Homo sapiens: one gene and its partners. The main gene of each other region encodes a partner of the protein of the gene in region 2 in a complex. Each region holds a gene or a part of one and is shown on either strand. Other genes may lie near its edges.

What was found.
Region 1: LSM7 (region 2) and SNRPD3 share a complex: the UniProt entries of both Homo sapiens proteins name them as parts of the U4/U6-U5 tri-snRNP complex.
Region 3: LSM7 (region 2) and USP39 share a complex: the UniProt entries of both Homo sapiens proteins name them as parts of the U4/U6-U5 tri-snRNP complex.
Region 4: LSM7 (region 2) and SART1 share a complex: the UniProt entries of both Homo sapiens proteins name them as parts of the U4/U6-U5 tri-snRNP complex.

Annotation. Positions count from the first base shown.
Region 1 is NC_000022.11:24,558,989-24,566,032, reverse strand, and holds part of SNRPD3 (small nuclear ribonucleoprotein Sm D3), read right to left. Parts: intron 1-7,044. UniProt on the Homo sapiens protein: Plays a role in pre-mRNA splicing as a core component of the spliceosomal U1, U2, U4 and U5 small nuclear ribonucleoproteins (snRNPs), the building blocks of the spliceosome.
Region 2 is NC_000019.10:2,320,988-2,325,597, forward strand, and holds the end of LSM7 (U6 snRNA-associated Sm-like protein LSm7), read right to left. Parts: intron 3,210-4,610; coding exon 3,138-3,209; intron 836-3,137; coding exon 693-835; 3' UTR 534-692; downstream 1-533. UniProt on the Homo sapiens protein: Plays a role in pre-mRNA splicing as component of the U4/U6-U5 tri-snRNP complex that is involved in spliceosome assembly, and as component of the precatalytic spliceosome (spliceosome B complex).
Region 3 is NC_000002.12:85,647,171-85,649,812, reverse strand, and holds the end of USP39 (ubiquitin carboxyl-terminal hydrolase 39), read right to left. Parts: intron 1,884-2,642; coding exon 1,797-1,883; intron 1,053-1,796; coding exon 1,005-1,052; 3' UTR 530-1,004; downstream 1-529.
Region 4 is NC_000011.10:65,971,720-65,978,763, reverse strand, and holds part of SART1 (U4/U6.U5 tri-snRNP-associated protein 1), read right to left. Parts: intron 2,386-7,044; coding exon of another isoform or gene 2,370-2,385; coding exon 2,196-2,369; intron 2,109-2,195; coding exon 1,998-2,108; intron 1,751-1,997; coding exon 1,663-1,750; intron 1,202-1,662; coding exon 1,111-1,201; intron 1,001-1,110; coding exon 865-1,000; intron 165-864; coding exon 75-164; intron 1-74. UniProt on the Homo sapiens protein: Plays a role in mRNA splicing as a component of the U4/U6-U5 tri-snRNP, one of the building blocks of the spliceosome. May also bind to DNA.

The DNA of each region.
Region 1 (7,044 bases), on a different chromosome or scaffold from region 2:
CAGGTTTATGGTCAGACTACCCAAGACAGAAACTGGATACAACTCAGGCTCACCTGAATCTGACTGACAATTAAAATGTGTTTTGGGGCTGGGCGCGGTGGCTCATGCCTGTAATCCCAGCACTTTGGGAGGCCGAGGTGGGTGGATCACCTGAGACCAGTCTGGCAAACACGGTGAAACCCTGGCTCTACTAAAAATACAAAAATTAGCCGGGTGTGGTGGCAGGTGCCTGTAGTCCCACCTACTCGGGAGGCTGAGGCAGGAGAATCACTTGAACCCGGGAGGTAGAGGTTGCAGTGAGCCAAAATCACGCCACTGTATTCCAGCCTGGGCAACAGAGCAAGACGCCGTCTCAAAAAACAAAAAACAAACCAAACAAACAAAAAACGTGTTTTGGGGACTGTGCCACACTCATGACTCTGTAGAAGACACAAAATAGGCCTAAAGACCTATAGGTGAGATCCAGCTCTGCCATTTGTCAGAAGTGTAACCCTAGGTATATCTCCAGGCTTCCCTGAGCCTCCGTTCCCTCAACTACAAAGCTGAGTTTTGAAAATACAAGACAACAAAGCCAACAGTTACTGAGCACTTATTAGACATCAAGTGCTGGCCCAGGTGATTTCCCCACGGCAGCTCATGTTACCCCACAAAATCCTACAAGGTAAAGAGATGAAGTGACATAGCCATTCAGAGGCAGATCTGTCCCCAGAAACCCATGCCCTTTCCCTCTATTCTCCTGCTTGAGGTCACACCACGCTTACATGGCCTGGCTGGAGTTTGAACCCAGTTCTTTCTAACTCACACTCTTAACCACTGCACATTTCCTGAAATTGTTAAAAAGCAAATCAGGCCAGGTACAGTGGTTCATGTCTGTAATCCCAGCACTTTGGGAGGCCAAGGTGGGAGGACTGCTTGAGGTCAGGAGTTTGAGACCAGCCTGGGAAATGTAACAAGATCCTATCTCTACAAAAATTTTTAACAATTAGCCAGGTGTGGTGGTGCATGCCTGTGGTCCCAGCTACTTGGGAGGCTGAGGTGGGAGGATGGCTGGAGCCCAGGAGTTCAAGGCTGCAGTGAGCTATGATTATGACACTGCATTCCAGCCTGGGCAACAGAGTAAGACCCTGTCAAAAAAAAAAAAAAAAAAATGAACAAGGCAAAGTATGTCTAAATGCTGTCTCTATTGCCTAATACATAATAGAGACTCAGTACATGCTAAATCTGATTGACAGCTAAAATGTGTTTTGGGAGCTGTGCCACTGCTAAGCCACACTCCCTCCAGCACAGGGGCACATCTCACTCCTTTCCTGACAGAAGCTGTTGCATAAGTCCGACAAGACTTAATCTAGGCATTTCCATAAATGAACTATGTCCTGGCTGAAGCAGGAGAGTCCAGTGTCCTCTGACTCCTATTTTAACCCTAACAACCAGGCTCACTACTGCTCTCGCTTTCCCTGTAGCACTGGCTAAGAACAGCTTGCTGTGGACAAAACCCCACAGTCTCACTGCACACATGCCTGCTAGAGCTTGCTAATAAGCCTGACCTGTGTTTGTATCACAAGCCCAAGGCAGCAACTTTTGAGTGAACCAGATCCTAATCAACTCCAGGCAGGAACACCCAGTTTAATCAACTTTCCTCAACAGCCACAATGAAACACATATGGTATAAGCCAGGTACCCAACTGAAATGACATCCTGAGGGGGAGAGAGAGAATCTTTGTAGCACAAAGTGGTGGGACTTTCTTAGATACCTGGGGCCAAGATGGAGAAAGCTAGCTCCAGGACTGTGAAGGTGTGTTGGGGTGTCTCAGGCCTGTCAATACACCAGAAATGCATTCTTTAGGACAATTTCACACATACACAAAGGCAGAGGTGCTTGGATGCCACTGCTATAATACGAATACCAACTAAGGCCATCTACCTATCTTTGTTCTTAGGAAATACAAAAGTATTATGGGGTAGAGGAGCATGATGAATGCAATCCACACACAAACAGTACAGGAAAAAAAAAGTATACGATAAGTTTAAAAAACTGGTTTTCCTTCAACCTAGAGGGCTAGGTGTCTAAAGAAATTCAATTACATTGAATTCAGAGATTTCAAAAACTTTCCTAGCAATAGTTATGGGCAATTTTCTGACCCAATCATGTGAGAGCTTCTTTTGGGTTCTCATTTTTATACAGTGACACAAGACCATATTCCATACAGAGACCAGTTTTCCAAAGATGGCTATTATATGCCAAAGCCAACAAAACAGATTTCAAACAGTCCCATCAGTGATTGGGTGGTCATGTTGAAGCCCCAAAAGCACAATGTCTGCTTGTGCAGAGCTCTACACCACATTCTCCCACCAAAACTTCTAAGAATTAAGTCATTTTGAATGTAGTGAAATGGGTTTGACCATTACTCTCTGTATTTGCTTGTATCATTTATAATTTGGGTCCATTTTTATAAAACTGGGGACATATTTTGGAGTATTGTTATTTTTCTCACTTATGCCAACAGCATTTTGACCAACATGCCATATCCTGCAGCTGATGCCCTATCCTGCAGCACTGGCCACCAGTGCTTGGCTTGCAGCTGTCGGAATGAGAAGGAGAACAAAAGCTCCCTGCCTTCCCAGCTTAACCTCAGATGCACACCCTCTGACCCGATAAGCACCATTTCAGGGACCTCATCCTGAGTTTCACATACACATATTTCCTCTTCTTCCTTTAAAAAAAAAAATATATATATATATACACACACACACACATATATATACATACATATATACATACATACACACATACACACACACACACACACACACACACACACACACACATATATGAGACAGGGTCTCACTGTGTTGCCCAGGGTGGTCCCAAACTCTTGGGATCAAGTGATCCCCCTGGCCCAGCCTCCCAAAGTGCTGGGATTACAGGCATGAGCCAATGTGCCTGGCCATATTTTGCATTTTCAAATGTCAAAAACAGTGCTAAGATAACAGGATACTTTAAAACTACTTGAGGGACCATAAAAGGGTATTTTGTATGGGGATGTTGTCGAGGATATCATCTAATAGTGTCTCCTGTATCTGAGTGCCAGGGAAATCCACACAATTGCTATTTTAACTTAAGAACACTATGCATTTTGGAACTGATGATCTTCCCTGCTTAATCTTACACTGGAATATACCTTTATTCAATGTACAGAGAGATTCAGGTTTACATTTCTGGATACTGACTGCTTGGCTTCATTTTACATTCTACCCCAGCTTACCTGCACCATGATCTATGCATCTACTTTTATCCTGCCATAGAATTTTTTTAATTTTAGAGATAGGGTCTTGCTCTGTCACCCAGGCTGGAGTGCAGTGGTGCGACCAGAGCTTAATGCAGCCTGAACTGCTGGGTGGGCTCAAGTGATCCTTTTTGCCTCAGCCTATGGAGTAGCTGGGACTACAGGCATAAGCCATCACATCCAGATAATATATTTTTTATTTTTGGAGATGGAGTCTTGCTCTGTCGCCCAGGCTGGAGTGCAGTGGCGCGATCTTGGCTCATTGCAAGCTCTGCCTCCTGGGTTCACGCCATTCTCCTGCCTCAGCCTCCCGAGTAGCTGGGACTACAGGCGCCCGCCACCACACCTGGCTAATTTTTTGTATTTTTTTTAGTAGAGACAGGGTTTCACCGTGTTAGCCAGGCTGGTCTCAATCTCCTGACCTCGTGATCTGCCCGCCTCAGCCTCCCAAAGTGCTGGGATTACAGGCGTGAGCCACAGTGCCCAGCCCCACATCCAGATAATTTTTAAACTTTTTTGCTTTTCAGAAGAGACAGGGTCTAACTATTTCTGAAAGAGGATAGAATAAAAAGTAAATACTAAAACCCCAAAACAGGGCAGGTGTGGCTTAGGCCTGTAATTCCAATACTTTGGGAGGCCAAGGTGGGAGGATCGCTTAAGTCCAGGAGTGCAAGACTAGCCTGGGCAACAGAGTGAGATCCTCTATTTATCTTTTCCGAATCGTTGTGGTGTGCTTTTGTGTGTGTGTGAGACTAGGTCTCACTCCGTCGCCCAGGCTGGAGTGCAGTGGCACTCCATAGCTCACTGCAGCCTTGACTTCCTGGGCTCAAGTAATCGTCCCAACTCAGCCTCCACCTGAATGGCTGGGACTACAGGCATGTGCCACCACATCCGTCTATTTTATTTTTTTTACAGACAAAGTCTTGTCATGTTGCCCAGGTTGGTCTTGAACCCCTGGGCTCAAGTGATCCTCCTGCCTCAGCCTCTCAAAGTGTTGGGATTATAGGAGTAGCCACCACATTTTGTCCCACCCCACTTTTATAACAGAAAATGTTATTGAACAAGCAAGGAAAAGTGCTAAGAGGATGTTCTCATTCCCAAAAGGCAGAATGACTGGATCTGGGAAGGACAGGCAAGCCTCACAGCCTGAGATGTGCTGAACAAACTAAACTGTGCTCAGAGTTCACCCACCACCAGCTTTAGCTACGCCACAGTCTGCTGGCTCTTATTCAATGTGCCTAGGTTTTGATAGACCCAGTGAGGCCTCTACATCCTGTTACAGGCTAAATTGTATCCCTCAAAAAAATTCATTGTTGAAGTCCTAATACCCAGCACCTCAGAATGTGATCATATTTAGAGACAAAAAATCTTTACAGGCCAGATGTGGTGGCTCATGCCTGTAATTCCAGGAGTTTGAGAGACTGAGGCAGCAGGATCACTTGTGGCCAGGAGTTTGAAACTGGCCTGAAAAACATATCAAGACTCCGTCTCTACAAAAAAATTTAAAAATTAGCCAGGTATGGTGGGGCACACTGGTAGTCCTGGATACTTAGAAGACTGAGGTGAAAAGATCTCTTGAGCCCAGAAGTCCAAGGCTGCCCATGAGCTATGATCAAACCACTGCACCCCAGCCTGGTCAACAGACCAAAGCTTAATCTCAAAAAAAAAAAAAAAAAAAAAAAAAGAAAAGAAAAAGGAAAAGAAAAAAAAGGCTGGGTGCAGTGGCTCATGCCTGTAATCCTAGCACTTTGGGAGGCCAAGGTGGGCAGATTGCCTCAGCTCAGGAGTTAGAGACCAGCCTGGGCAACATGATGAGCCTCCATCTCTATTAAAAATACAAAAAATATTAACATTAGTGGGGTACGGTGGCCCATGCCTATAACCCCAGCTACTCAGGAGGCTGAGGCAAGAGAGTTGCTTAAACCCGGGAAGACGGAGGTTTGCAGTGAGCTGAGATTGTGCCACTGTACTCCAGCCTGGACAACAGAGCAAGATTCTGTCTCAAAAAAAAAAAAAAAAAAAAAAAAAAAAAAGGCCAGGTGCAGTGGCTCACGCCTGTAATCCTAGCACTTGGGAGGCTGAGGCAAACTCAGGAGTTTGAGACCAGCCTGGGCAACATGGGGAAACCCTATCTCTACTAAAAATACGAAAAACTAGCTGGGCATAGTCCCAGCTACTCAGGAGGCTGAGGCATGAGAAGTGCTTGAACCCAGGAGGCAGAGGTTGCAGTGAGCTGAGATCATGCCACTGCACTCCAGCCTGGGCGACAGAGTGAGACTCTCAAAAAAAAAAAAAAAAAAAAAAAAAAAAAAAAAAAAAAGCAAGCAAGCTGGGCATGGTGGCTCACATCTGTAATCCCAGCACTTTGGGAGGTCGAGGCGAGCAGATCACAAGGTCAGGAGTTCGAGACCAGCCTGGCCAATATGGTGAAACCTGTCTCTACTAAAAATATAAAAATACAAAAATTAGCTGGGCATGGTGGCAGATGCCTGTAGTCCCAGCTACTCAGGAGGCTGAGGCAGGAGAATCGCTTGAACCTGGAAGGCAGAGGTTGCAGTGAGCCAAGATCGCGCCACTGCACTCCAGCCTGGGTGACAGAGCAAGACTGCAGCCTGGGTGACAGAGCAAGGCTCCATCTCAAAAAAAAAAAAAAAAAAATTCTTTATAAACATAATTATGTTAAGATGAAGTCATTAGAGTGGGCCCTAATCCTACATGCATGGTATCCTTATAAGAAGAATCTGGACAGAAACACTACAGAGGGAAGACCAAGTGAAGACACAGGAAGAGAGCCATATATAAGCAAGGAGAGAGGCCTGAAACAGATCCTTCCTTCACATTCCTCAGAAGAAACCAGCCTTGCCAACACCTTGATCTCAGACTTCCAGCCTTCAGAACTATGAGAAAATAAATTTGTGTTGTCTAAGCTGCCCAGTCTGTGAAACTTTGTTATGGTAGCACTAGCATACAAATACAAGCAGGGAGGCAGGTGGCTGTCCCCCACCATTGGTCAGGCATGGTTCCTTCTGAGGCCAAGGTGCTATTTTTATCCCTGATTTAGAGGAGGGACCAGAGGATGAAGGAGGTCCAAAGCTAAGCTCGCCCCAAGTCACCCTAGGGGGCAGGCTACAAGCTGATTCCAGGTCTGTCGGACACCAAGGTCTGTGCACTTTGTGTCATGTTGACTGCATCTCTGAATGGCTACCAAGGTTATCTGGTTAGACACCTTCACGTTACGGATGGGATGACAAAGGCCCTGGAAACCCAGCAAGTTGTCCAAATACATACAGCTAATTGAACAAACCCATTAAGCTTCACTAACCCAAGTCTTGCATTCTCCTCACCAAATTAAAGAACCTTAAAGTGGATGAGCATGCCTTAAGCCAGAGGACTGGATATATGAGAGATGATAAACTTATCTACCCTCAATAGATAAACTGATCTATTGACAGTAATGCAATAAACCTGAGTCACCAGAGGTCTACTTCTCTGCATTCAGGGAACTGACCAAGCTTGTCAACCTCGCAGGAAGATGACAGACGCTCAAAGCTACAGAAAAATCACAAATAAATGAACCCTGCAAACCAATGGATGGTCAGGATGCCTGACCGCGGTGTAAGGTGCTTTACCTCTCTGACCTTCTCATCTGGAAAAAAGCAATAGGTATCATATGTTGAACACTCACAGTATGTGAGGCACTGAGCAGCTATGGCACACATACAGCTCATCTGATCTTTGTAAAAGTCCTGGGGGTGTGGAT
Region 2 (4,610 bases):
TGTAGGTGACCAGTCCATCTCACAAGCGGGGGCAGCAGCGGGGGCAGGTGTTAGCTGCATGGGCTGTGGGGTCTGGCCTCTTGATGCACCCCGGCTCCTGATGCACCCCAGCCTCCTGATGCACCCCGGCTCCTGATTCACCCCAGGTCCTGACACACCCAGCTCCTGACACACCCAGCCTCCTAATGCACCCCAGCCTCCTAATGCACCCCGGCTCCTGACGCACCCCGGCCTCCTGATGCACCCCGGCCTCCTGATATACCCCAGCCTCCTGATGCATCCCGGCTCCTGATGCACCCCAGCTCCTGCTGTCTTGGGGGCGGGCCTGGGGTTCCACAAGCCCCTCATCAGACTGAGGTTCCAAACTCGCCTGTCTCGGCCTTGGCTGTGCCCGCCTTGGTCACTCCTGAACCCTCACCCCCAGGAGGGACCATGGCTGGTATTTGATGAGCTCCAGGGACTGAGTCCAATCTCCAGGAATCCAGGTTTCCTCAGAAGGTCAAGGGAAAAGCAAGATTCGGGGCTCAGACACATTGAGGTTTGCAATTTTATTAAGAAAACAAAAATTCAACCTATACAAAAAGGAAAATGCTTCCGTTCCAGGAGGCGGTACTGCGGTGGGAGCAGCAGCCAAGTCCGCGGGAAACCGAGCTGCTCGGGCCTGCCCTGCACCCCCCGCGCCCCCGGCCAGGCTAGGCGTCCTGCTGCTGGATGAAGGGGTTGGGGATGGCCTCCATGCCGTCCTGCGGGCAGATTAGCACCACGGACGTGCCCCGGCACACCACGAGGCCCAGCTGCCGGGTGTCCTCCGTGAGCTTGTACTGGTCGTCAGGGTCTGGGGAGGAGCAGATAGAGAGGACTGAGGGACCTCCAGGAAGCCTCCGAGACCCCCCACCCACCCAAGACCCTCGCTCCGACCTCCCCACCTGCACCCTGCAGGCGCCACGAGCACGCAGGGACCTCAGACGGGATGCGCTCTGTGGGGCAGGTCCCCGGCTCCCACGGCTGAGACCCATGGCCCCTAGAGACCAGTGGCAGCTCCACAGACAGCAGCCACAGCCCTCCCTCACTCCACAAACCATGGGAACAAGAAGGCCCAGGTGATAGCCGGCTACCCCGCGTCTCAGAGCTCACTGGGGCCCAGGCACCAGGGCCGGGAACCAGGTTATCAGATGGCCGGCCAGAATACAGGCACCCTGGGCCTCCTGGTCTCTGCAAGGTCCCTGGAGCCCTAGGGGGCCAATATTCACCCTATAACAAAGAGGCTGGGGGCCGGGCGCGGTGGCTCACGCCTGTAATCCCAGCACTTTGGGAGGCCAAGGCAGGCGGATCACGAGGTCAGGAGATCGAGACCATCCTGGCTAACTTGGTGAAACCCCGTCTCTACTAAAAAATACAAAAAAATTAGCCGGGCGTGGTGGCAGGCACTTGGAGTCCCAGCTACTCGGGAGGCTGAGGCAGGAGAATGGTGTGAACCCAGGAGGCGGAGCTTGCAGTGAGCCGAGATCGCGCCACTGCACTCCAGCCTGGGTGACAGAGCGAGATTCCATCTCAAAAAATAAAAAAATAAAGAGGCTGTTCATGTGGGGTGGGGACCATGTGGGCTGGCACCCCAGGGAAGTGCCAGCAAGCCCAAGACAAGCTCTCAAGAGGCTGAAGGCGATTAAAACTCCTCACTACTGTGGTCCTGCAGTGGTGGGGGCATGGGAGAACCATGGGGCCCAGGTTTTTAAACTTTTTTTCAGACACCAGGTCTTGCTCTGTTGCTCAGGTTGGAGTGCAGCAGTGCAATCACAGCTCACAGCCTCAACCTCCTGGGCTCAAACAATCCTCCTGCCTTAGCCTCCTGAGTAGCTGGGGCCACAGGCACATGTACCGCCATGCCTGGCTAATTACATTTTTTTTTTTTTTGTAGAGACAGGGTCTCACTATGTTGCCCAGGCTGGTCTCAAATTCCTGGGCTCGAGTGATCCTCCTGTCTTGGCCTCCCAAAGTGCTGGGATTACAGGCATGAGCCACCATGGCCAGCTACAAGAATAAATCTTGTCTCAGTATCAATGGATCCAAGGGGCAAGACCCTCTCTCTCCTAAGTCCTGACATTCCCCCAGTGCCCGGGCCGGGATGGGGACTTGCCAGCTGGGGACTTGCCGCAGGAGCTTCTGGGGGAGAGTCTGAGGACTTGGCGGCCTCACTGGGGAGGGGAGCGAGCGGGGGCAGGGAAATGAGGGAGGGTCCTCTGGGGAGGAGACAGGGACCCTGCGTTCATAGCGGGAATTAACAAGGGCAGAAGAGGAAAGGCGCCCGAGAGGAGCCCCACGGCACGCTCACTACCCCACAGCAAGGCTGCTCTCCGCTGGGCGCCACAGCTCACGCCTGGAACCCCAGCACTGTGGGAGGCTGAAGCAGGAGGATGGCTTGAGCCCAGGAGTTCGAGACCAGCCCGGGCAACACAGTGAGACCTCAGCTTATCTCTTTTTTTTGAGACGGAGTCTCACTCTGTTACTCAGGCTGGAGTGCAGTTGCACCATCTCGGCTCACTGCAACCTCCGCCTCCCAGGTTCAAGCGATTCTCCTGCGTCAGCCTCCCGAGCAGCTGGGATTACAGGCATGCGCCACCACACCCAGCAATTTTTTTGCATTTTTAGCGGAGACGGGGTTTCACCATGTTGGTCAGGCTGGTCTCAAACTCCTGACCTCAAGAGATCCTCCTGCCTTGGCCTCCCAAAGCGCTGGGATTATAGGTGTGAGCCATTGTGCCTGGCCTCTCACGTCACCAATTTAACAAAAATTAAAATAATAAAACATTTAAAAAGGTTGTCCTCTAACTGTGCCGGGCGCCCCGTCAGTGTGTAGAGACCAGTGGGTGAGCTGGCAGCTCCCGTCTCTCCAGGCCCCACAACAATGGGGTTTCCTGCTTTGTGAGGACGTCTAGGACCAGTGAGCGCTCAAGCCCGTCCATCGGCCGCCACGAGGCTTCACGTTGGTAACTCAGAGGTTTTGTGGGTTTGAGAGAAGAAGAGCCAGCAGGGAGCCCCACGGCTGCCCCCCTCGTCCCACTGCCCCCCTCGTCCCGCTGCCCCCCTCACCCCACTATCCCCCTCGTCCCGCTGCCTGCCTCGGCCGCCACCCCACTCACCTCGCATGTACTCAATGGTGCCGTCCAGCACAAGGTTGAGGAGTGGGTCGAAGCCCTTCAGGATTCCACTGGCTTGGAGAAATCACCGGGGGAGAGAAAAGAGAAGGCATGAGATCCGTCCTGGGCGCAGGGCCCGCCCCAGCATGGCCCAGGTATGGGGCTAACTGCTCCAGGGATGGAGGACTGAGGGTAGGAGAGGGCTCCCGGGAGTGGCCGATGACAGCCGCCTCCAGAGTGATCTCCACCACAGGCAGCAGACCACGTCTGCGGGGGGCCAGATGGCAAACACTTCTGGCCGTGTGGGCCACAGGGTGCCGGTCACAGCTGCTGGCTCGGGCTGCCTGGGTGGAGGCAGCTTCGGTAATGAGTCCATGTGTGGCTGAACTGCGGCCGGTCAGCTCTACTCACAGGCACTGAACTGTGAATTTCATGTAATTTCCACATCGTGAGACAGTCTTGTTTTGATCCCTTTCTAGCTATTTAAAAGTCATAAAAACAATTCTCAGCTCAAAAGCAGCAGCAAAACAGGCGGCGGCACGTGTACGCGGTGGGACCACCAGCCAGGAAGAGGAGCGAGGCTGGCGCAGGCCACAGCGCGGATGCGCCTGAGGACGCACCTGAGGACGTCACGCTCAGTGAGAGACGCCAGACACAGAAGGCTGCGCACCGTGAGATCCCATTTCTATGAAATGTCCAGGACAGGCCAATCCACAAAGACAGGGAAGGGATGCGTGGGTGCCAGGGCCAGGGATGGGACAGGCAGTGATGGCTGATGGGGACAGGGCTTCCTGTAGGGGAGACAGAGTGCTCCGCTCTGACAGCGGTGATGACTGCGCTGCCTGACCTGTGCTGAGTCCCTCAGTGAGTTCACGGAATACAAAAGAACAAATCCCAGCCCTGCTGCTTAGGGCTTGCGGGGAGCAGGCAACAGAGATGCTCTGAGACCCAGGTGCAAAGGCTTCGGGGGCTGAGACGGTCTCTGTGGCTTCTCTCTCCACGCTGCCTGCCCCACCCCTCAAGCTTCGCCGCCTTGGGCCACAACTTGCCAACTTAGGTTAGGGCTCTCTGACCCGGTGGTGATCTCTGCCATCTGATCCTGCTCCGCAGTGTCTGGTGACACTGAGAAGGGTGAAGGGGGAGCTGTGTGTCCCCAGCAGAGGCCAGCCCACCCTCTCTGCCTGGGACTCCCCTCCACTGCCCTGCAGGCTCCTGCAGCCGAGGCCCAGCAGCAGCTCCACCTCTGCGCTCACTGAGGGGCGTCCCGCAGCCACCCCCTCCCTGCTCTCCTTCTTACCCCTGTCATCTTTCAGGTGCTTCCTCCAGACACCAACCCACAGCCCTTACGGTGCTGCCCTCTGCACGCCCACGCCAATCTCAGGAAGCAGGCACCACCAATCTCGGGAAGCAGGCACCACCAATCTCGGGAAGCAGGCACCCCGGGCATTATTCTGCCTGCCTGTCTCCTCCCAAGGC
Region 3 (2,642 bases), on a different chromosome or scaffold from region 2:
GGGCTCCTGTCTCCATTCAACAGAACTTGCTGGGGCTGACTGGCTGCCTCCAGCTGCTTCCCATATCTTTGGACCTGCCACAGTGCTCATGCCAAGGCCACCCTTCTTCTAGGCTGCTAGAGCCCACGACTGAGCTTGATGGGAGCCATTTCTGCTGAATTGTCTGACGGAATCTTTGCCCTGGGGCTCCACACTGGACTGGCTGAGACCACCTCAGAATTGCACTGTAGTGAGAAGCGCTTCCTATTTCCTTTTTTTCCTCTTCCCTTACTCATTCCTGCACTGCAGCTGGAAACTGCCCACCTCTGGCCCTCTAGTTAAGCACAATAATAATGTATCCCCTTGACTCAGGTATTTTTTTACTTAGAAACAAATGCATCCTAACTGACACACCACCCACAAGCTGACAGGAAAGGGCGAGCGTGATGTGCACCAGATGTCAGACTGTAGGGTAGAGAGTTTGTGAAGATTAAAAAGGAAAATATTTTCCTCAGCCAACCACCAAAGGAAAAGATATAAAACAAGAGGCTGGTTTAAAAACAGGAGACTATTTAATCCATCTAAAAATACAAATCAGGAAATGGGGGGAACCATAGGAAAATCCTCCACCTCTAACAGAGCGAAGTTACTGGCTTTCTGCTTGCTCCAAGAATCCCAAGGCTTGATGTTTGGAAGGAATTATCTGTTCTTCAACTACTCCCAGATACTCAAGACATAAGTTACACACATCTGGAGAAGGGTTCTGCCCTGCTGAAGCTAGATGGGAGCTCAATGCATGGGAGAAAGGAGCATCAATCTAGAAAAAAATGATCAAAGAACAGCTGAGTGACAGTGTGGGGCCATCCCAGGCAAGTGGGCTCTTGGTGCTCTGGTGTAGCCAGAACCCATACAAGCTGGGCTGGCCTAGGAAGCCCACCAGCCAGCCTGTGTTCAGCTACAGCTTCTGTGTTCTTATTTACCATCATCAGCCACAGCCCTTGGGAGCAAAGCCCTAGACGCCTCCTTCAAGCCCCCTGCTGGTTGGTTTCATCATTATCTCGCCTCTTCCAAATCTGTAAGAAATGAAAACACAAACTGAAGTCTAGGAGGCATTCAGTCAACAGACACTTATCAAATACCTATTCTGTGCCAGGCCATGGACAACTTGTCACCCCATTTACAAATCTGCTATACCCCATTTGGAAATCTGCTACAGTGGCTACAGCCACTGAGGAGAAAAAAGTTATCTCTAGAAGGAGAGGTATCACTTTCTTCTTACAAAGCTATGGCTTTTGTCTCAATCTTCCTTCTTTTGCCAGGTACTAGGGCAGTTACATAAAGAGAAGACAGAGATGCTCTGTGCTCCATGGGTCAATCCAATGGAGAGGACAGACAGGCAAAGCGATATGGCCGGCACTAAAACAAACGTCAAGTAGAAAGCGCTGTGGGGTCACAAAGCTGCCTGGGGCTCTGGGGAGCACTTCGTGGTCGACTTCTAGCCAGCCTCCCTGATGAGTCTAGGTTCTTCCTCCTCGAAACCAGACCGCACACTTCTGCAAAACTAACCTGGCCATAATCGCAACTTTCTTTGCTCACTCATACATTTTCTACACTTCCTTATACTTCTTTTCTGAAAATCTCTGCTTGACTTTCAGGGCCATACATTCTGCCCCCAACTCACTACTAAGTACTTCCCAATAGGTACCTGGCCCTCCAACCAAGGTCCTAACTCTATCCCTCTTCCTGCCTTGGCCCACTCCTCTCACTGGCCCCATACGCCACCTATTTGTGGCTCACTAAGCCTGTGGCCAACCCACCTGAATGTAAGCCTCTGACAGTGTGATCATCTGGGGAAGGATGTCAGTCACCTGGAGGTCTTGTAATTCATACCATTTGCCTGTCCCCTGCAGAAAGTATGAAGAGCTGGGTTAGTCTGCTCTCTAAAACCAAAAGGGTGTAGAAGGAAAGGATCATAGCCAAGACTAGAAAAATTAGAAGAACAGCCACTAGACATCATCCAGCAACAGTCATAAAGAAGAGGGTACATGACTTCTTCTGGCCATGATTCAATTAATAGGACTTTTGGTGTGTCAATCATGGCAAACTCAATTCCTGTTGGGAATTTTTTTAAAGCACTGTTTTTTGTTTGTTGTTTTTTTGTTTTTTTTTTTTTTTGAGACAGGGTCTCACTCTGTCACCCAGGCTGGACTACAGTGGTGTAATCACAGCTCACTGCAGCCTTGACCCTCTGGATTCAAGCGATCCTCCCCTCAGCCTCCCAGGTAGCTGGAACTACAGGTGTGTGCCACTAAAACTGGCTAATTTTTTTTTTAATAGCAATGGGGTCCCACTGTGTTGCCCAGGCTAACTCCTGGTCTCAAAAGATCCTCCCGCCTCAGCCTCCTAAAGTGCTAGGATTATGGGTATGAGCCACTGCGCCTGGCCCCTTGAAGTACAATGGAGTCTGAAACACTTCTGTACATCTTTTTAAAAGGAATTTAGTGGACACTAAAGATGAGAAAAGAGGAAGCCATCTAATCATCACCTATGATGTCTCCTTCCTGCTCAGAAATGACAGACTAGACATTCTCACTTATGAGGTACACAGTGTCAACCACTGAGAGAACCTAAATATGGACATTCCTGGCTGGGCACAGGGGCTT
Region 4 (7,044 bases), on a different chromosome or scaffold from region 2:
TGCAGCAGGCCCCACACACCAGCCACCCCTGCCCCGGCAGGCACAGGGCCCCCCACATCCCCAAGGGCACCCACCGCCTCCTCGTCCAGCTTCTTCATCCGCCGCTCTGTCTTCATCTTGCCTGAGCCCTTGCCATGGAAGCGGTGCGACAGCTGCCGGAAAGCCTGGGGACGCGGGGCATGAGAGGAGATGCAGGGCCCTGGGTGGGGCCGGAGCCACCTGTGCCCACAAGGTGTATAATAACAGGGCGGGTGTTGATTGACCCCAATGCCAGGCCTGGGGTGCAGTGGGAAGGGGATGGGAAAAGAGCACAGACGCTGGCACCCTGCAGGGCCCCAGCAGAGGCCGGGAGACCAGCTTGGCTAGTGGATGCGCTGCCATGGGGGCAGAGCATGGGGAACCTGGAGACCTGCCACGCAGGGGCTGGGCCTGGACGCTGGGGCTGGGGCTGGGGCTGCAGGGAGACAAACCCCAGAGAGCAAGGGGGCAGCTGAGTGGTAGGGCAGGACGGTCGGGCGGCCTACGAGAGTGCTGGAAGGGCCTGGACGCTGGAATGGCCCTGCGGGCCAGGAAAGCCAGTGAAGGGCTCACGCAGGTGAGGACAGGAGGGCAGAGGTCCCGAGTGCCTGTCTGACCCTCCTGCCAGGCTTGCAAAGAGACTGCTGTGCCCACTAGAGACAAACTGAGGCACAGCCTTCCTCAGCCCTGAGGGCCCCCTCCCCATCCGTGGCATTCACCAGGCCCCCAGCCAGAGGCTGGTGGAGCCAGGACCCTGGGGCATTGCATGGCCCGGGGCATTGCATGGCCCTGGGCTTGGCCTCCCTGTGGCAGGCCGGGCCTCCGCCTGCAAAAGGCCCTGCTCACCTCCTTGGGTGTGAGTTTCCGGCCCGTCTCATCCACGTATTCGATCTTAACGTCGGGTTTGTAGCCGTCCTTCTCCTTGAAGTCCTGTGTGAAGCCTCGGTATTCCTCCCTCCGGCTGTACTTGTCATCGATGGCCCTGGCCCGAGACAGAGGAGGCCTTAGTGTGAGGAGCTGCCGCCTGCTGTGGTCCCGAAGCTCCAAGCTGGCACAGGCCCCTCAGCCCTGCACAGGCCCCACCACACTCACATCTTATCCTCGATGCAGTACACGGCTGAGGGCAGCGACTTGTTGGGGGCCTTCACCCGGGCCACCTTCTGCACTGTGGTCTCCAGCAGCCCTAGGGATGGAGGGGTTGTGAGACTCCCAACCCCTCGAGAGCCACAGCTCCAGGGCCGCCTGAGAAGGCAGAGCAGGCCCTGTGGGGGCACCTCCCTTTCCTTGCCTCTGGAAAGCCATCAGGCCTGTTCTACAGGCAAAGCAAAGATGCAGAAATGAGCCCCTTGCCAAGGGTCACTGGCCAGGGAAATGGCAGAGCTGGGGTCCTAACACCAGGGCTCTCTGTGCCACAGCTGGAACAGTTTCAACTCCCCTCTCCTTCCCCAAGCAGGTGTGGAGCCTCAAAGGCAGAGCAGACGGACAGATGCCACAGTGGAGGGGAAGGAGTGGCTCTGGGCCGGACAGCTGGCTCCAGCATTGGGACTGAGAGAAAGGGGCAGCAGAGGGGACCGGAGGGGGCCCTGCCTGCACCTGCAGCAGCACCCAAGCCCACCCAAGTCATGGCTGCCCTGAGCTCCCTACCTTTGTTCTGACACAGGAGCAGGGCAGCTGCCAGCCCCCTATTCACGATCGGTTCCTCGTCCAGGATGGTGGTGGAGGAAGCAGAGAACTACGGGACACGTGGCGGGGGTGGTTAGCAGGCCATACCGGCTCTTCTCAGCCCCACCCACTGGTCACCACCTGCCAGGCACCAGCCCTCCACAACATTTAATTTCCTCATTTACTCCTCAGATCGCCCTGGGAGGTCTGCAGAGCCCACTCTGGATGAGGAGGCTGAGGCTCTGGACACCGAGCCCGGTGCTCATCTCCAGCTTGAGCACCCCCAAACGCCCACCCCCCAGCGGCGCGGCCCTCACATCCTGCTGCTGCTTCTCCTCGTCCAGGTTCACCGTGCTCCAGCCGATGTTCTCCTCCCCGTCAGATTCGGAGCCACCGTTGGCTGAGCGCTCCTCATCCCGTTCAAAGTCCTGGGGCACAAAAGACCAGGGTCGGCCCAGGCCCCAGCCAGCCCACCCAGCCGAGGGAAGCAGAGGGCGGGGCCGCCCCAGACGCACCATGAGCTCCTCCTGCTCCTCGCGATTGCCAGCCAGCCCGTAGGTGGGGATCTCCCCCAAGGTGCGGCAGAACTCGGACGTGGCGTTGAACACGATGGCCCCCTTCCGCTCGGGATCCTCATCCTCCTCCCAGCCCCGCTGGCGAGACTCCAGCTTCTTCACAATCTCCACCACCTGGGGGAGGGAGCGGCTGTGGGCAAACCCAGCAGTTTCTGGGGTGATGCCATTGAGACCCAGGAACCTAAGGGTCCTCCCTGGCAGCAGCCAGACAGGCCACGCCCACAGCCCATGCAGGCCCAGCTGCTATCTGCCGCCTAACTCCACTCTGCACCTCTTTCACTGGGGTCACTCTTCTGCTCCAAACCCATCAATGGGTTTGGATGCCCTTTGAATGAATACCCAACATCCTACAGGGCCTTCCTGACCAGGCCTGTGCCAATCCCCCTCCAAAGCCCCTCACACACTACCTCAGCCTCAAACTCCTTCCTCCAGGCTCCCTCCTGCCACCTGCCCCTCCCCCGACAAACTCCGGTTTCAGGACTCTAGACAGCACTTCTAGAACCCGCAGGGTGGTGAGGTGGCCCACGCTTTTGACTTCCCACAGCCCAGCTTCTCGCTTCCTGCTTCACCAAGAAAGCAGGTTCCGTGACATGGGAAGAGAACTCACTCATGCTGCCAGCACTGAATCCAGCGACCCCCACACGGGCACCAGCACCCTCTGCTTTCCCTCCTGTCGCAGATGCCCAGCCACACACAATGATTACCATCTCCCCTCTTTAAAAAACTTCTCCCTCAACCCTGCAGCCCAGACAGCAAAGTCCTCACTCCTCAGTGAAGGTTCGAGTCACTATGTCCACTTCTGCACCCCTCTTTCATTTTATATTACATTCATTTTTTTAAAAAAATCTTCTGAGGCGGGTGGACTGCTTGAGTTCCGGAGATCGAGACCAGCCTGGGCAACATACCCAAATCCCATCTCTACAAAAAACATAAAAATTAGACATTGTGGTCACACACGCCCATAGTCCCAGCTACTGGGGAGGCTGAGGTGGGAGTACTGCTTGAGCTTGGGAGATCAAGGCTGCCAAGATCACACCACTGCACTCAAAAGAGTGGGCAAGAGTGAAACCCCGTCTCGAAAAAAAAAAAAAAAAAAAATTCTTCCAGGGGCCGGGTGGTTGCTCACATCTATAATCCTAGCACTTTGGGAGGCCGAGGCTGGAGGATCACTTGAGCCCAGGAGTTCGAGACCAGCCTGGACAATAAGGTGAAGCACAGTCTCTACAAAAAACACAAAGATCAACCAGGCATGGTGGTGTATGCCTGTAGTCTCAGCTACTTGGGAGGCTGGGGTGGGTGGATTGCTTGAGCCTGGAGGCCGAGGCTATGGTGAGCCGTGATCTTGCCACTGCACTCAAGCCTGGGCAACAGAGCAATACCCTGTCTCCAAAAAAAAAAAAAAAAAAAGTCTTCCAGGACATCCAGGAACATTTGTTTGTTTGTTTGTCTTTTAATTTTTATTTCTTTTTGAGACAGAGTCTCACTTTGTCGCCCAGGCTGGAGTGCAGTGGCGCGATCTCAGCTCACTGCAAGCTCCGCCTCCTGGGTTCACAGCATTCTCCTGCCTCAGCCTCCCGAGTAGCTGGGACTACAGGCGCCCGCCACCACGCCCAGCTAATTTTTTTGTATTTTTTTTCAGTAGAGATGGGGTTTCACCGTACTAGCCTGGATGGTCTCCATCTCCTGACCTCGTGATTTGCCTGCCTTGGCCTCCCAAAGTGTTGGGGTTACAGACGTGAGCCACCGCGCCTGGCCAGGAACACTTATTTTTTAATGAACATTGTAAACATAAAACGAGGTATATCTAATGCATCATATGCTACTTATTTATTGAGACCATCTCACTCTATCACCCATGCTGGAGTGCAATGGGGCGATATAGGCTCACTGCAACCTCCACCTCCCAGGTTCAAGTGATCCTCCTCCCTCAGCCTCCTAAGTAGCTGGGACTACAGGTGCATGCCTCCACAACCAGCTAATTTTTGTATTTTTAGTAGAGACAGGGTTTCACCATGTTGCCCAGGCTGGTCCCAAAACCAGCTTCAAGTGATCCACTCACCTCAGCCTCCCAAAGTGCTGGGACTATAGGTGTGAACCACCACACCCGGCTGATATGGTTTTTTTTTTTTTTTTTTTTGAGACAGAGTCTCACTGTTGGCCAGGCTGGAGTGAAGTGGCACGATCTTGGCTCACTGCAACCTCCACCTCTCGGGTTCAAGTGATTCTCCTGCCTCAGCCTCCTGAGTAGCTGGGATTACAGGCATGCACCACCATGCTCGGCTAATTTTTTTTTTTTTTTTTTTTTTTTTTAGTAGAGAGGGGGTTTCACCATGTTAGCCAGGATGGTCTCAATCTCCTGATCTTGTGATCCACCTGCCTAGGCCTCCCAAAGTGCTGATATTACAGGTGTGAGCCACCGCACCCAGCGGCTGATATAGTTTTTAAAACATTAACTAAACACACACCCATGTCCCTCTCCCTGGGGCTGGGGCAGCATCACTAATGCCCTGCCCAGACTTGAGTGTCCCCTCCCCATCCATGGTCATGACTCACCGGCTTGTCTTCATGGCTTTAGCACATAAGGACCTGCCCCTGAACAGTTATTTTGTTGTGTATTAATTATTCTATAACCTGAGTCACACTGTATGACTCTTCTGTGATTTGTTTTGTAAAAAAATCTGTGCCCCTGAGAGTAACCCTGATGCACACGGCTGTAGCTCATCAGTTTCCACTATGGAATCACAGCCCGTGAGCTGGATGCTCCTTGATCTGGCTCTCTAGCCCACTGAGGATGGACTTTTTTTGTCCCAAGTACTGCGGCTGCAGGCCCACTGACAATGTCTCCTGGTGCACATGGGCACACTCGGGAGAGGTGTGGGGTGGGCCCCGGGCACGCACACATTCCCTCTCATCTGATTAGACTCCTGCCCATGGCTGTGAGTAGCGTGGCTGAGGACTCTGGCCGCTCCATGTCCTTTACTCCTACTCGCTACTGTCAGGCTTGGACCTTTCTGCGGAATTGTTGGCAGGTGGCAGGTGCCTCACTGTTTTGGTTCACCTTTCTGTGATCCCTCCTGAAACTGGATTCACCGGGTATTTTCCTGGTGAGTTAGGCTTTCTCTTCTGTGAACTGCCTGTCTTATCTACATCTTTCGCCTATTTTCCTGTTGTGTTGATTTGTTTTGTCTGTTTGTATACTCTTGACACCAACCCATTCTTGGTGGTATATATGGGCAAATATCTTCTCTTTTTGGTCTGCCTTTTTATATTCTTCATGGTATGTTTTGTAAAAAAACAAAAAACAAAAAACTTACGTTCTCAATTTCTTTTTTTTTGAGACGGAGTCTTGCTCTGTCACCCAGGCTGGAGTGCAGTGGTGCGATCTCGGCTCACTGCAAGCTCCGCCTCCTGGGTTCACACCATTCTCCTGCCTCAGCCTCCCTAGTAGCTGGGACTACAGGTGCCCGCCACCACGTCTGGTTAATTTTTTTGTATTTTTTTTAGTAGAGACAGGGTTTCACTGTGTTGACCAGGATGGTCTCATCTCCTGACCTCGTGATCCGCCCGCCTTGGCCTCCCAAAGTGCTGGGATTACAGGCGTGAGCCATCGCGCCCGGCCACGTTCTCAATTTCTATGTAGTTACACGTTCACTTTTTTCTTCATGGTTTCTTGAAGAAACTCACCCATGGAACCTGTGGGTTTCTTGGTTTTTTTTTTTTTTTGAGACAGGATCTTGTTCTATCACCCAGGCTATCATAGCTATCTGTGATATAGTCAGCTATAGTCTATCATAGCTGACTATAACCTCGAACTCCTAGATTCAAGCAATCCTCCTGCCTTAGCCTCCGGCGTAGCTGAGGCTTCAGACACATGCTACCATGCCCAGCTAATTAAAAAAACATTTTTAGAGATGGGGTTGGTAGGGGGGGTGGTCTTGCTGTGTTGCCCCAGGCTGGTCTCAAATTCCTGGCCTCAAGCAATTCTCCTGCCTTGGCTATGCTGACAACTTAAAAAATCTTTTCTACCAAAAAGTTATAAATGTAATTTCCTTAATTTGATTCCGAAATGTGAAGTTTTTACTTTGAAGTTCTTAATCTATCTGCAAGGTGTGAGGTATAAACCCAATTTCATTTTTTCCCCAAATAGATAACTGACTGTCCCACGCCCACTCGCTGCACTGACGAGCGACTCTTCCCACTGGGACACGATTCTGTCTCGGGGCCCCGCTGTCTGGTCTCTCTGTTCTGTTAGTCTATCCTTATGCAATCCCACACTGCCACAATGCCCCTACTTTATCCAATTTCAGAATCATTTTCCAGCTTCCAAAATAATCCCTATTGGGATTTTTACTGGAGTTGCATTTAACCTAGAAATGAACTACATGAGATGGACATCTTGACAATATATTGTCCTATCTAGGAATTGTGTAACCCCTAAATTCATATCGGGAAGCCCTAACCCCCAATGACTGTATGTGGACAGAGCACCTTTAGGAGGTGGAAATTGCAGTGAGCTGAGATAGAGTCACTGCACCCCAGCCTGGGTGACAAAGTGAGACACTATCACAAAACAAAACAACCCCTCAATTCCAAGGATCCTTTCTGTTCTCTCCAGCCTTTCTTTCTAGCTCATTGACTGTATTAACTTCAATCCAGTAATTCTTCAACCACATCACGACTCCAGGCCCTGTCCTCACACCCATCATTCTCTGTTATGTCCCTCATTACCCAGTTTAGACTCAGGGGGAAATCAACAGAACCTCTCCTTTGTGAAACCCTTAACTGCCTT